2 separate regions of the Homo sapiens genome follow, and region 1 is linked to region 2. The links come from fine-mapping of genetic effects on gene expression. Tissue or cell type: whole blood. Region 2 holds a variant in brackets; the other region holds the start of a gene. All regions are shown on one strand. Distances are from middle to middle.

Region 1 (7,184 bases), 26 kb after region 2:
TACAGTGAGCTATAATCGCACCACTGCACTCCAGCCTGGGTGGCAGAGCAAGACCCCGTCTCTAAAAAAAATAAAAAGGAAAGAAAATATTCAGTAAAAAATGAATGGTTGCATCTGTACAGAACATGTGCAGACTTTTTTCCTTCTCATTATTCCCTAAATTATACAGAGTAACAACTACTGGCATAGCATTAACATTGTATTAGATATTATAAGTAATCTAGAGATGATTTAAAGTATAAGGGAGGATGTGTATAAGTTATATGCAAGCACTACAACATTTATATCAGGGACTTGAGCATCTGTGGATTTTAGTACCCCAGAAGGTTCCTGGAACCAATCCCCCCTGGATACCAAAGGACAACTGTAGATCCTTTCATGGTAAATAAGATAGTGTCCAGTTTAAAACACAGTCTCTGACGGGGTGGCTTAGCAATTATTCCTGACACACTGATAAAATCTGGAACTGCTGAGCTAGAAGTTAAAACTTGGACCAGTATGACCCCAAGTACAAAGGAAGTATGACCCATACCCAAAAATGGAACCCAGCCTCAATCAGCCAGAGTTACCATTGACATATCTGGAATTTTCAGTAGTTTTGTCCTCTGTTCTATCACTACCTAAGTTAGTCCAAAAGTTCACCCTAAAAGTCACATTAACCCCAGGGCTTTGGGTAATGAAGAAATCACATCTTGAGCCTAGAGAGAATCATAGCATTTCTTAAATAGGCAGCCCCAAAGCAGTTTCCTTTCCCACACTGAAATTACTGGAATGGTTTAGTGGTCCCAGAAACTGGTAAGACTCGTGCCCAGGACAGTTAAAAACCCCAGGATCAACAAAACTTGTACGAAGTAAAAAGAACACAAGCTTGTTCTCTATTCTGATGTTTATTTGTTGTGTTTTGTTTTAGAGACAGGGTCTTGCTCTCTGACCCAGGCTGCAGCGCAGTGGCACTCAATCATGGCCCACTGCAGCTTCGACCTCCTGGGCTCAGTTGCCCAGGTGATCCTCCTGCCTCAGCCTCCTGAGTAGCTGGGACCACAGATGCACAACACCACACCCAGCTAATTTTTTAACTATTTGTAGAGACAAGGTCACACTATGTTGCCCAGGCTGGTCTTGAACTCCTGGACTCAAGTGATCCTCCCTCCTTGGCCTCTCAAAGTGCTGGGATTACAGGTTTGAGCCACCACACCCAGCCTCTATTCCGAAGTTTAAATCACATACCTTGAAAGTCAACTAATAAATGTTCCTAAATAAGTATAAGAATTTAAAAATAAAAGTCATTGCCAAAGAGTTATATTTTGGAACATTGCAAAAATACCTGCTCATAGGTCGATAGTCTATGCCACATCATCTAACTGGATATTAATAGATGAGCAATCACTCACCATATCCTGTACAGTTAACTTCCAATTTTTTAGGAAAGGACACAGGAATACAGGTAAATAAACTGAAACCCAATTCTCATTTTAGCCAACACTTTTTAAATTCCTCCTCCAATGAAATGTATTTTTTATCAGCGCTAACAGGTAACAATTTATTGATCCAAACGTCTTTTCCTTCAACAATCTGATAGTTGTCCAAATGATCATTATGACAACCAAAATTAGAAAACAGCAGGGGAAAAAGAGTGAGAGGGCTTGGAGGGGTGGAATGGGATAGGTAATTCATAAATTGGATAAACAGAGGCCTCAACAAATGCCTATTTGTCATAATCTAAAGATGACTGACCCATTGTCATCTCATTTTTAATACAATGACCAAGTCCCTGAAGCCACCTGGTAAAATGTAAAACGAACTTCTGAAAAGAAATTGAGGATCCAGGATTCTACCATCAACAGTAGTTAATAAAGTTTACAAGCCAGCAGTTACTAGTTCTCATTAAGAATTAACTGATATTTCATAACCTGATCCCCAGTAAGCTTATTAATAAAAAGCAACGGAAATTTCGGGCTGGGCATGGTGGCTCACACCTGTAATCCCAGCACTTTGGAAGGCTGAGGCGGGTGGATCACCTGAGGTCAGGAGTTCAAGACCAGCCTGGCCAACATGGTGAAACCCTGTCTCTACTAAAAATACAAAAATCAGCTGGGCATGGTGGCGGGCGCCTGTAATCCCAGGTACTCGGGAGGCTGAGGCAGGAGAATCACTTGAACCCGGGAGGCAGAGGTTGCAGTGAGCCGAGATTGCACCATTGCACTCCAGCCTGGGCGACAAAGCGAAACTGTCTCAAAAAATAAAAATAAAAAATAAAATAAATAAAAAGCAATGGAAATTTGGAGGAAGAAGTAGTGAATCAGCCTCTCTCTTCCATGTGCTGTATTTTATTGGAATATGAGTAAGTATAAGGGTAATATGAGAAATGGGGGGGGGGGTTCTAGTCACCAAAATGGCATCTGACTCTCCAAATGCAGCAATGCTCACTCCAGTGGGTTGCTTCACTGTGACTCAAGATCTGTCAAATGAGGACATAAGGGAATTTGAATAAAGCCAAGATACACTCCTAAAATAAACCAAATCTTCCAATAGACCTAACAGAAGATGTAACAAGAATCAAGAAGCTAACCTACTCAACATAAATTGATTCTAAAATACTTTTTAAAATGAATTATTGCTAATGCAAAAATTCAGGAAAGAAGTCTAGGAATTTGTTTTCCTAATGGCACATTCCATTTATCTGTTGGTAGAGGTCACTAAAATACATTACTAGGTGTCTATGTATCCCTCCCCTGTTCTCCTTTTATAACCTTATTCTTCAAAAATAAAAGGTAATTAAGTGAAAGCATCAATTAAATATGTCCTTCCTTTCTCAAAATAGATAAATACGAATATAACTGAATCTTTGTTTTATAGTATATGCCCACTACGCTGTACGGCAAACAACCATGGCAAATCCACTGCATTATGAACAAAAGTAAATTGTCGCCCCCAAAATATAACTATCCATTTCGACCCAACCAAAGGGAAAATAATTTTCCCAATCCTCCAATTATATGCCAAAAGAATTAGAAAATACAGGAAAAAAAGATTCATAGAAGCTTGTATAAATGTCAAGTGCCAACATTTCACTAATAACCAAGATTTCCTATTGTACTGACTTTTAATTGTATCAAATCATGAATCTTCTAGGGCACAGAAAACAAAGACTAAATGGTTCTGCCAATTTACAATGATCATATTTCACCTTTAGAAGTGTAATCGCCATGGAAGCAATGAATTCATCGAATTCATCTTTCTCTCTCCACTGATTAAACGGATCCTGCACTACAGGCATAATCGGCTAGTTTCTGCCACCACTCATACATAGGCCTCCAACGCACTCTACAAGCCAGGGCTACACTGCCTAGAAATCCGCACTGTGTCACTGCATAAGGCAGTTTCCCACTGCACACATCCAGAAGAATAAAGTCACCTAAGCACTCTTGTCAGATCTTAGCAAGGCTGCAAAATGACAGGAGTTGCTAACCAAATAGCAGGAAGCAAAAATCACCACCTTTAAAAATCATTTAAGCAGTTTTCCTTTCCGCCATCTCACTTCCCTCCTCCTCCTCCTCGTCATTCTCTCTCTCTCTCTCTCACACACACACACACACACACACACACACGCACGCACGCACGCACGCAATGCAGTTCATCCCCAGCTTTGCAAGTGACATGCTGGGAGCTCTCTCTGGACAGCCGGCCCAGAACTCATTCAGAGCCCTCAAATACAGACATTCTCACCTGAACACGCCAGGCAACTTCCACCCGCACCATCACCTCCACCCTCCCCGACACACACAGACTCGCCCTCGCAAGCTCTACCCATACCAATCCCCCAGCTGCAGAAAGCCCAGTAGGCTCACTGCAAGCGCAGCACGCGTTACCACTTATAAGCCGAGTTGGGCGGCCTAAGCTTCAGAAACCGCCTCTTCACGCAGCCCACCCCCACCACCCCGGCGCGGCTGGACCCCTGGCCCGCCAGGTGGGATGCGCTACCTTTAGACTGGCAATCTGCACAAAACTTGTTATCCTCCTCCAGCAGCAGGTTGGCCAGGACAGCCTGGTACCGATCCACGTCCTTCACCGACTTGCCTGTCATGGCCAGGGTGCCGGCGGGGGCAGAGGGCGACGCGCCCTCCTCGCCCCCAGAGACCCCTGCCTCAGTCCGGGGTTGAGGACTCCCGGTCCCCCGCCCAGGGGCACCTCCTGAGCGGGGAGAGCCCTCTCCTCCGGCCCCGCCGGACGCCCCTTCCCGGGTCGGGGGCGTCCGTCCCCCACTCCGCAGCCCCTCGGCGCGGCGCCCCTTGGCGGGCTTAGGGACAGGCCCGCCTCCAAGAGAGGCTGCGGGGCCAGAGACCCTCAGCCCAGGCAAAGGCGGACCACGAGCCTCCTGGGTGCCGGACGCAGATGACCCTCTGGCCGGCCTGTCTGCTGGCCTTGCGTCCCGCGCCTCGGTTTCCCTGGCAGCTGCCGTCAGCTCCGCTACCACCTCCACCGCCTACTTCCGGCAGCTCTTCCTCCCCACCTCCACCCTGCCCAGCTCGCGCATGCGCCCCGCCCCCACCGCGCCGCACTGGGCTCTTCCTTCAGCTCCGCCTCTCGGGAACCAATCCGTGGAGAAGCGGGGGGCGGGCCTTGGGTGGGGGCGGAGGGAAGGGGTGGGCACGCCCCCTGCGTGTCCTTGGAAGAGAATGAATGGAGCCTGGTAGAAAGGGAGTGGAGGGAATGGAAGAAAGTGAAGGAAGACAACAACTAACATTTACTGAGCTCTTACTATGCGCTAGGCACTGTGTTAAGCGCTTTGCATGAACTATCCCAACATAATCCTCACAACGACCCTATGATCATCCTTATGTAACCTGAGGGTTGTTGATACCCCAAAGTCCTCCAGCTTGTTTTTTCCAACAGCCAAATATAAGAGTCCAAGCCCCTAACCCAGGATATAGGAACGTCACCCCCTCCCCACATTTTCAGAGGACTCTGGTCACCTCTCACTTGGAATACCTGCTCCCACTAATACTCATTAGCTCTCCTCTGTGACTCCTGCCTTTTTGGATATTGTTTGGCCTGGTGCCCAGACAGTTTGTTTCTTCTTCCATTTCTTAAATTCTCACAAAACAGCGAGTTTTTTGTGGCAGACTTTTACTGAACGTTATTTGGGAAGGGTGGGGGACAGTGATTAAAGCATAGCACACAACAGGCAACTCCTTAAAAATGATTATTAAACATCATCATCCAAAGCCACCGTTGCTACAGATAATTTCTCATTGGCTGTCCTTTTCCTTAGGGATCCACCTGCCATCTGGCTTGTGTTTTCATTCACTCATTCATTCATTCATTCACTGAGCACGATGTTACTGAGAAATTTCTAAGTATCAGGCACTGTACTAGGGGAGAGGGAAACAGCATGATCCGATTTGTGGTTTTAAAAGGTCACTCTGGCTGCCATGGAAATAATTAATCAGGGAAGATAGTAAGCAGATGCTAAGAGTTATCTAAACTCTGGTGAAACCCTCTCCTCCATTTCTTTACTTTCTCCCAAGACCAGGATCCCCTCAAAGCTTTCATCTCATCAGAGGAAAACTAAACATTTCTATTACTTTATTAATCACAACAATTAAATTTTCTGGCTAAGCCTCTTCCCTTCTAGCCATGCCTAGGGGACTTGACTTTTAAAAACACACAAGTTCATTGGGGTGTTTTTCCTCAGAAAACCCATCCAAGTAGGTATTACCATAACCATTTTTCAGTTGAAATAGACAGTCAAGATTAACTAGTTACTGGGTGTGGTGGCACATACCTGTAGTCCTAGCTACTCAGGATGCCAGAGCCAGAGCATCACTTGAGCCCAGGAGTTGGAATCCAGCCTGGGCAACACAGTAAGAACCACCCCTCCAACCCCCAATGTACCCCGTTACCCTGTCTCAAACAACAACAACAACAACAAAACCCAGTTAATTGCGGTGAGTGGTGATTGTACCTTAGTTCAAGCCCTCCCCATCTTCATCTCCTCACTCTGCAAATAGCCTTCCTGCCTTAGTCTAAATCTGGTTAAATTAATCCTTCACCGTGCTCTCTAGAGGGAGCTTTTAAATGCCAATTCTGATGGACTCACACTTCCTGCTTAAAAAATCCTTTAGTGGCTCTCCATTGCCTATGGCAGTGTTTCTCAAATTGTTCCCACCTAGTGAGAGATCTCATGGCTTTGTGGTTAAGCACACAGACTCTGGGGCAAGAATGCTTAAGTTTAAATCTTCAGCTTTTACCACCTATTATCTGTGTGACTTTGAGCAGGTTACTTAGCCTCTTGGTGCCTCAGTTATTTCATCTATAGAATGGGAATGATGATAACATTAATAGTACCTATTTCACAAGATTATTATGAGGCTTAGCTGAGATAATGCCTGTAATATAATTAGAACAGCCCTTGGTAGATAGTGAATGATAGACAATTAGCGCTCTTCACTAAATATTTCTGGCGTTTTGCCTTCTGAGCACATGGTAGGATTTTATTTCCTGGCCTTCAAGTGATTGGGAAAGACCAATGAGTTTGAGCAGAAAGGATGGATTACTTTGTCTCTGAAGCATTTATTTGTTGCTTTGAGCCTCTTGTGCTTCTCTTTCCCTCTGGCATGGCAACTATTGATGCTGAAGATGTTGGTTGCTCTATTAGCCTGGATTTCTGTGTAGCTGATAAACAAGAGCTCTCTGCCAGCCCATAGAGGATAACTTAGCATAAGCAAGAAATAAGCATTGTGTTGCCATTGAGTTTTGTTTGTTTACCACTGTATAAGCTAGCCTATCCTAGCAGATACATCAAGTATTAGCTCTTTTTATTATCATTACTAATAGCAGAGTAAAGTGAGTGCATAGCCCAGGGTCTGAGGATATAAACAAAGCAAACTGCTCCTCCCAAGTACACATTTTTTTTTTTGAAGTCTTGAATTTTGCTTTGACTAGTCTTGCAAAAATGTTCACTCTGTTCCATCATGCACATGTTATCTTATCATAAAACTGTTTCCACATTAGTTATAAAATTTTTTTTTTTGAGACCGAGTCTCGCTCTGTCGCCAGGCTGGAGTGCAGTGGTGCGATCTCGGCTCACTGCAACCTCCGCCTCCCAGGTTCAAGCAATTCTCCTGCCTCAGCCTCCCAAGTAGCTAGGACTACAGGCACGTGCCACCACTCCTGGCTAATTT
Region 2 (7,184 bases):
TTTAATTTTTTTAAAGACAAGGTCTCCCTATGTTGCTTAGGCTGGTTGTGAACTCCTGGCCTCAAGGAATCCTCTCGCCTCAGCCTCCCAAAGCACTGGGATTACAGGTGGGAGCAACCACACTCTGCCAGTTGTAGGACTTAGGTTTGAGCACAGCTCCTTCAGTGATTACCTGTGTGACCTTCTGAGAGATACTTACATTTCCTGAGCCTTAGTTTCCTCATCTATAAAACGTGTACAATAGCATTCACCTCACAGTGCCCTAGAACACAGAGGGACAATAACTGAGGACTATATATAAGGATGTGGTATAGAATAAGGTTTCCAGAACCCACTTCCCATCCATCTTCCTGATAAGGGCCAGTTAACTCATTCATATATGTAATATATACCAACACTCTATGCAACACCACGGAGTGCTTCTTTTTATTTTATTTTTTTGAGACAGAGTCTCGCTCTGTCGTCCAGGCTGGAGTGCAGCGGCGTGATTTTGGCTCACTGCAACCTCCGTCTCCTAGGTGCAAGCAACTCTCGTGCCTCAGCTTCCCGAGTAGCTGGGACTATAGGCGCGTGCTACCACACCCCACTAATTTTTGTATTTTAGTAGAGACGGGGTTTCGCCTTGTTGGCCAGGCTGGTCTCAAACTCCAGACCTCTGGTGATGTACCCGCCTTGGCCTCTCAAAGGCCTGGGATTACAGGCGTGAGCCACCGCGCTCAGCCAGAGTGCTTCTTTTTTAAAAAGGAATATGAGTTCTGGTCCTAAAATATCAGAACCAAAATGAACTGAATACAGAGAGAAGAAATTTACCCTAGACCCAATTTCAAAGTCTTCTAGGCAACATGAAAATTTAAGCAGCTTCCTTTATTTCTCTTAAAATATTTCTTGAAAATGCACTTTTTAAACCCTCACCTGTTCCCTTTCTCTGCTACACACCCCCACCCTGCCCTTGTGCTTGCATATGCCCCCACTACACAGGCAAAGAAAGAAGGCCCAAGGCTGTCAACCTAAGTGGTGGGTACTTGGATTCCACAGTACCTGGTATTGCTGCTATAAGGCCAGCCTACTTTAATCTGGTAAACTTGCAAAAATGCAAGTGAAACCAATTGTTTCACTTAACATAATGACCTCCAATTCCATCCATGTTGCTGCAAATGTTAGTGAGTTAAAAAATAGTGGATCTCATGAAGAGAGAGTAAATCGGTGTTCTAGAAGCCAGGAAGGGTAGGCGGATGGAGGAAGAAATGAGGTTGATTAATGGGTACAAAAATACAGTTAGTCAGCCTGGCCAACACGGTGAAACCCCATCTCTACTAAAAATACAAAAAATTAGCCAGGCATGGTGGCACGTGCCTGTAATCCCAGCTACTGGGGAGGCTGAGGCAGGAGAATTGCTTGAATCCAGGAGTCAGAGGTTGCAATGAGCCGAGATCACACCACTGCACTCCAGCCTAGATGACAGCGAGACCTTGTCTCAAAAAAAAAACAAAAATACAAAAATACAGTTAGAAGAAATAAGATCTAGTGTTCAATAAATCAGTACAGTGACTATAGTAAATAATAATCTACCATATATCTCAAAATAGGTAGAAGAGAATAATTCAAATATTCCCAGCATAAAGAAAAGATAAATGTCTAAGGTGACGGATATAGCATTATCATGATTTGGTTATTACACATTATGTGAATGTATCAAAATATCACTTGTACCCTGAAAACATGTACATCTATTATGTATCAATAAAAAGAGATAAACCAATTGTTTAATACACATTGGTCATGGCAATCAAGGAAAAAAATATAAAAGATGCCATTTTGAAATTTAAAATGAAAAGAAATGCTGAGAGGCAATATGCCAAACAATTTTGAAAGCAAAGAGGATAGACAAGTGATGTAAACTGGTAGTGATCGGCACAACACAAGAACAAGGTCACACATAAGTGCACATATTCAACAGGAGCCTAAGAGCAGGCGTGGGCAGCATCAAGCAATACTAAAACTAACATAGAATCACTCTGCAATAAGGGATCAGGGAAAATGAAAAAAGTAGATGGAGATGGATTTGGTTGATCAGTCAAGAAATCAACTGTCCTAAGTACCAGTTCAGTATCGGAAAAATCTGGGTTTACACGGACCTGTTGCATGTATTTTGACAAGTTTCTCTAGGGCTTATGTCTCCATTTGTAAAATGAAAAGCATATACGTAATATCCAACTTATATTCAACATCTGGACAGCTTCTACATACGGAGTAACTACTGCTGCAAATTCCTCTTGCTGCTGAAACTTCCCCCACCACCAAAGCTGCCAGGATTAGAGGGGCTCTGGGATTGACAACTCAGCAGACAGAAAAGGGGAACTAGCGTGATGGAGGACTTCAAGCTACTACTAATATTATAATAATTATATCATTGAGTTCTAATCTATGGAGTTCCAAACAAATAAATATTGAGGAGGAAAAAACATTGATAAATTGATGGCTACCTATATTTAGACCTGCTGGCATAACGGACCTGTCAAAAAGTTCAACGGGCAGGCTACGCGAAGGGAGAGAACTTTCCCATCTTCCATCCAAATCCTGTGGAATCTATCTTGGAAACTTTTCCAGAATCTATCCATTTCTACCTAGACCTCATGTCTCACCTATAAGCATTCGTTCTTTTTTGTGTGTGTTTGTTTGTTTTGAGACGGAATCTCGCTCTGTCACCCAGGCTGGAGTGCAGTGGCGCGATCTCGGCTCACTGCAAGTTCCGCCTCCCGAGTTCACGCCATTCTCCTGCCTCAGCCTCCCGAGTAGCTGAGACTACAGGCGCCCGCGATCACGCCCGGCTAATTTTGTTTTTGTATTTTTAGTAGAGACGGGGTTTCACCTTGGTAGCCAGGATGGTCTCGATCTCCTGACCTAGTGATCCGCCCTTCTCGGCCTCCCAGAGTGCTGGGATTACAGGTGTGAGCCACCGCGCCCAACCAGCATTGGTTCTCTTAACATTATTTATTGTGTACCTATGTGCCAAGCAATTTGCCTGCTAAGTACTGGGGATACAAAGGCAGAGAAAATAAGGATGAGATTCCTCAATTCAAAAAGCTCACAGACTAACAAGCAATTAGTCTCCAGAATCCCACCACCAGAATAATCTTTCTAAAACACAAATCTGTACAGATCACACCTCTAAATATAAACCTTCCATGTAGTCTCATACACAAAGGTAAATATGTAAATTGGTGCACATTTTCTGAATAGCATATTCCAAACTAAGCTCTCAATCTCTTGCTACAAAATCTCTTCCTTTTTTCTTCATCTTAGTCAACTACACCTCCATCCATTCCATTGCGTCAGTCAGAAAATTATGCATCATGAAACCTCTCTCCTTCAGCCCCCACATCACCAAGACAAAAATATCTGTCAAATCAGTATCTCTTCTCTCCATCTGTATCACTATTTCTGTAATCTAAAGCCACCAGACTCTTTCGGACCACTGCAATAACCTCCTAATAGCTCTCTCTCCACTTTTACATTCTCTTCTCCCTTGAGCCCAAACCAAAACCATTCTCCACCAAACAGCCAACTTGAGCTCTTAAAGAAGCAAAGCCACATTGTGCTGCTTAAAATTCTTCTATTACTATTGGATTAAATAACAAAATCCTTAACATAGTTTCCAAGGTCTTAAAGGTCTAGCCCATGCCTCCTTCCGCAGCCTCTCAATTCCTATGGTAGCAGCCTTCTTTCATTTCCTCAAGGGACCAACATGTTCCTTCCTCAGGGCTTGCTGGACTTTGTACATGCTGCTCCTGCTGCCTAAAAAAACTCTTTCCCTAACTGCCAAATGCCACTTGCAGCCTGGCCAACTCCTATACATCACAAGGGTCTCAGCTGAAATGTTTCTTCCTCAAAGGAGTCTTTCCTTGGCTCCCCAGTCTAAACCCGACTGTAACATCTCTTCTACCCTTTCTTTTGGTTTTTACCTTACAGAAAATTTCAAACAAACGAAAGCAGAGCATAATTAACCATGAGCTTCAGCAATTATCAACTCCTAGCCAATTTTGTTTCAGCTATACTCCCACCCACTGCCCCTCAACTCCAACCTGGATTATTCTGAAGCAAATCCTAAATATCATACCATTTCATCTGTATATACTTCAGCATATATCTCTAAAAGATAAGGACTTTTTTTTTAAAGGTTATGAACTTTCATTTACCCTTTACTCTTTTTTTCACTCTTTCTTTTCTTTTCTTTTTTTTTTTT[TG/G]AGACAGGGTCTTACTCTCTCACCCAGGCTGGAGTGCAGTGGTGCGATCATAGCTCACAGCAGCCTTGGGCTGTCAGGCTCAGGCAATCCTCCCACCTCAGTCTCCCAAGTAGCTGGGACTAGATGCATGAGCCACCACGCTCAGCTGAATTTTTTATTTTTGTAAAGATGGGTCATTGAGTGGTGTTAAGAGTCAGGAAAAAAAAAAAAGAGAAAGAAAGAAAAGAAAAAAAAAAGAAATGGGCCAGGCACGGTGGCTCACGCCTGTAATCCCAACACTTTGGGAGGCAGAGGTGGACAGATGACCTGAGGTCAGGAGTTTGAGACAAGCCTGGCCAACATGGTGAAACCCCATCTCTACTAAAAATACAAAAAAAAAAAAAAAAAAAAATAGCCACACGTAGTGGCACATGCCTGTAGTCCCAGCTACTTGGGAGGCTAAGGCAGGAGAATCACGTGAGCCCAGGAGGCGGAGGTTGCAGTGGGCCGAGATCCCACCACTGCACTCCAGCCTGGGCAACAGAGCAAGGCTCTGTCTGAAAAAAATAAAAATAAAAATAAATCAATGAAATAAAAAAGAGACAGGGTCTCACTATGTTGCTCAGGCTGGTCTTGAACTCCTGGCCTCAAGTGATTTTCCTACTTTGGCCTCCCAAAGCACTGAGATTACAGGAGTGAGCCACTGTGCCTGGCCACCCTTTACTTTTTCTAAATCATACCATATTTTGTTACTATCTAATTATTTGATTGTTTAAGATGTCTTTCCCGCTTAACTATGTGTGCCACAAGAGCTGTCACCAGACCTGTAACATTCACTATCATATACTCACGGCATAGCATGGTTCCTTGAACATAGCAGGGAAGCAACATTTGCTTAAAGATTAATTAAAACTAAGTATTCTAGGTGCAGTGGCACATGTCTGTAGTCCCAGCTATTCAGGAGGCTGAGGTTGGAGGATCACTTGAGCCCAGGAGTTTGAGGCCAGCCTGGGCAACATATTGACACCCTATCTCAAAAAAACAAAAGAACTAAGTAAATCCTTTGACCCCACTTGTAAGAATTCATCAGGGAAAAAACAGGTCAAGTACACAAAGAAATACGTTAAGAATGTTCATTATTACATCTTTATGAAAATTAGAAACATTAATAGGTTACATTAAGGAATTATGGTATCACCATTTAACGGGGAAAAATTTTGGAGCCTCTATTTCATATAAAAGTATCTCCATGATATAGTAATTTTAAAAATCCAGTATTAAAAGAGTACACATGAAACAATTCCATTTTTTTTAAAATATGAATAAATGAGCTCGGTGTGGTGATATGCCTCTGTAGTCCTAGCTACTTGGGAGGCTGAGCGGGAGTACTGCTTGAGCCCAAGGATTCAAAGGCTGCAATGAGCTATGATTGCACCATGGCACTTCATCCTAGGGAACAGAGTGAGACCTTGTCAAAAAATAAATAAATAAATAAATGTACGCGTATGCACAGAAAAAAAATCTAGAAGACTATATGTAAATTATTACTATATCGGGATAATGGGATAATGAAACATCTATTTTCTTCTCTATATATCCTCTCTGAATTGTTTGCAATGAGCTTTCTATTAATTTTGCAATGGGAAAAACCAGTACAGATATCGTAAAAACAAAACAACGTAAGCATCCAGGGCTCCTTACTGGCTGCAGGGTAAGTTGAAACTCCTTAACATAATATATAAAGTCTGTTGAGAGCCTTGTACTTTACACATGCTGAGGAAGTCATAATTGTGAAATATGCAGCACACTCAAATCTCTTTGACTACACCATTCTTTCTACCTGGAATGGCTTTCTCCCTCATTCCCTGCTTGACAAACTTAAAAATCCAGTTCATCTGTGATGCCCTCCAATGGAATAAACCCTAACTTTCTCTATTGCTAATAGCCCAGGGTATGCTTTGTTCTTCTAATACTTAATATCTTGTTCGAGTTGCTTACAGGTCTCTCTTGTCCTAAATAGACTATGAGCTCTGGAAGGCAATGACCATGTTCCTTCATCATTTATCACAAACACTTGACACAATGCTAGCAAACAGAAGATGGTACACAATAAATGTGTGTTAAATGAATTCGTCAATAAGCAACATAAATGTATATATTTTTCCTGTTTTGCAAAATGAAGGGAGAAGTTTTCAAATGCCTTAAAGGATAGCTGTAACACAGAAAACGGATTAGGTTACTTTGGAAAGGCTTCAAAAGCAGAACTGGCACCAAGGAGTAGAAGTTGATTTTAGCACACTCTAGAGAAAAATTTTCTAACAATTAAGGTTGTGTAAAAACCAATGCAGCATATCCAGAAATTGTAAAATCTCAGTTAGTGCAGTGTTCAAACAGAGGTTTGGTAATCAGTTCTCAGGGATGGTAGAGAAATGATCCCCATGTGGTGAATTGGGTGAACAATGAGCCCTACAGTTCTTTCTACTACTACAGTCCTACTACTACAGTAGATGATTTGCAGTAATTTTTAGGTCCCTTCCTGCTTACCGTTCAATGGTTCTGAAAACGTAAAATGAAACAAACAATCTATGAAGATGTTAGGTCTTGAGGAACCTAAAACACGGAATCAAATTTGGTTCATGGAGCCTATACCAGGCACTGAAAACTGGTTAAATGCAACATACATATAAGGAAAAACCTAAATCAACAAACTCAGATTTTATAAGAGATTAATTCTACGTGACATAACTTGTCATTAACTCTGACCCAAAATTTGGAAGTCAAAGTAAAAAAAGCAGCAGTATTTGTTTTAAGAACAAATCTAGTGCCAGTTACCTCAGTTCCACTCATTATATCCCTCCATTCTCTGATTCACTGAAAAGGAAGAATACACAGAAACACCAGTGGGATCTTGGAAAAATTGTGTAGGGCTGCTGAGAGGTATGTTTACCTCTATGTTTTCAT

The links. PIP is the estimated chance that this variant, and not a neighbour inherited with it, causes the effect.
Region 1: it holds the start of SMAP2, and the variant in region 2 is fine-mapped to the expression of SMAP2 in whole blood (INTERVAL, PIP above 0.99).

The regions. Positions count from the first base shown.
Region 1 is chr1:40,371,021-40,378,204 of GRCh38, reverse strand. It overlaps SMAP2 (small ArfGAP2), which reads right to left and starts at 4,478. Exons shown (of 10, transcript NM_022733.3): 1 at 3,982-4,478. The coding sequence starts at 4,084. RefSeq lists an enhancer at 3,721-4,220 and silencers at 4,206-4,345, 4,416-4,735.
Region 2 is chr1:40,396,762-40,403,945 of GRCh38, reverse strand. All of the region lies in intron 1 of SMAP2 (small ArfGAP2), which reads right to left. Among named protein-coding and RNA genes, the nearest start is that of SMAP2, 27 kb to the right of the region's middle. The variant TG/G (reference allele first, on the strand shown) is at 4,244.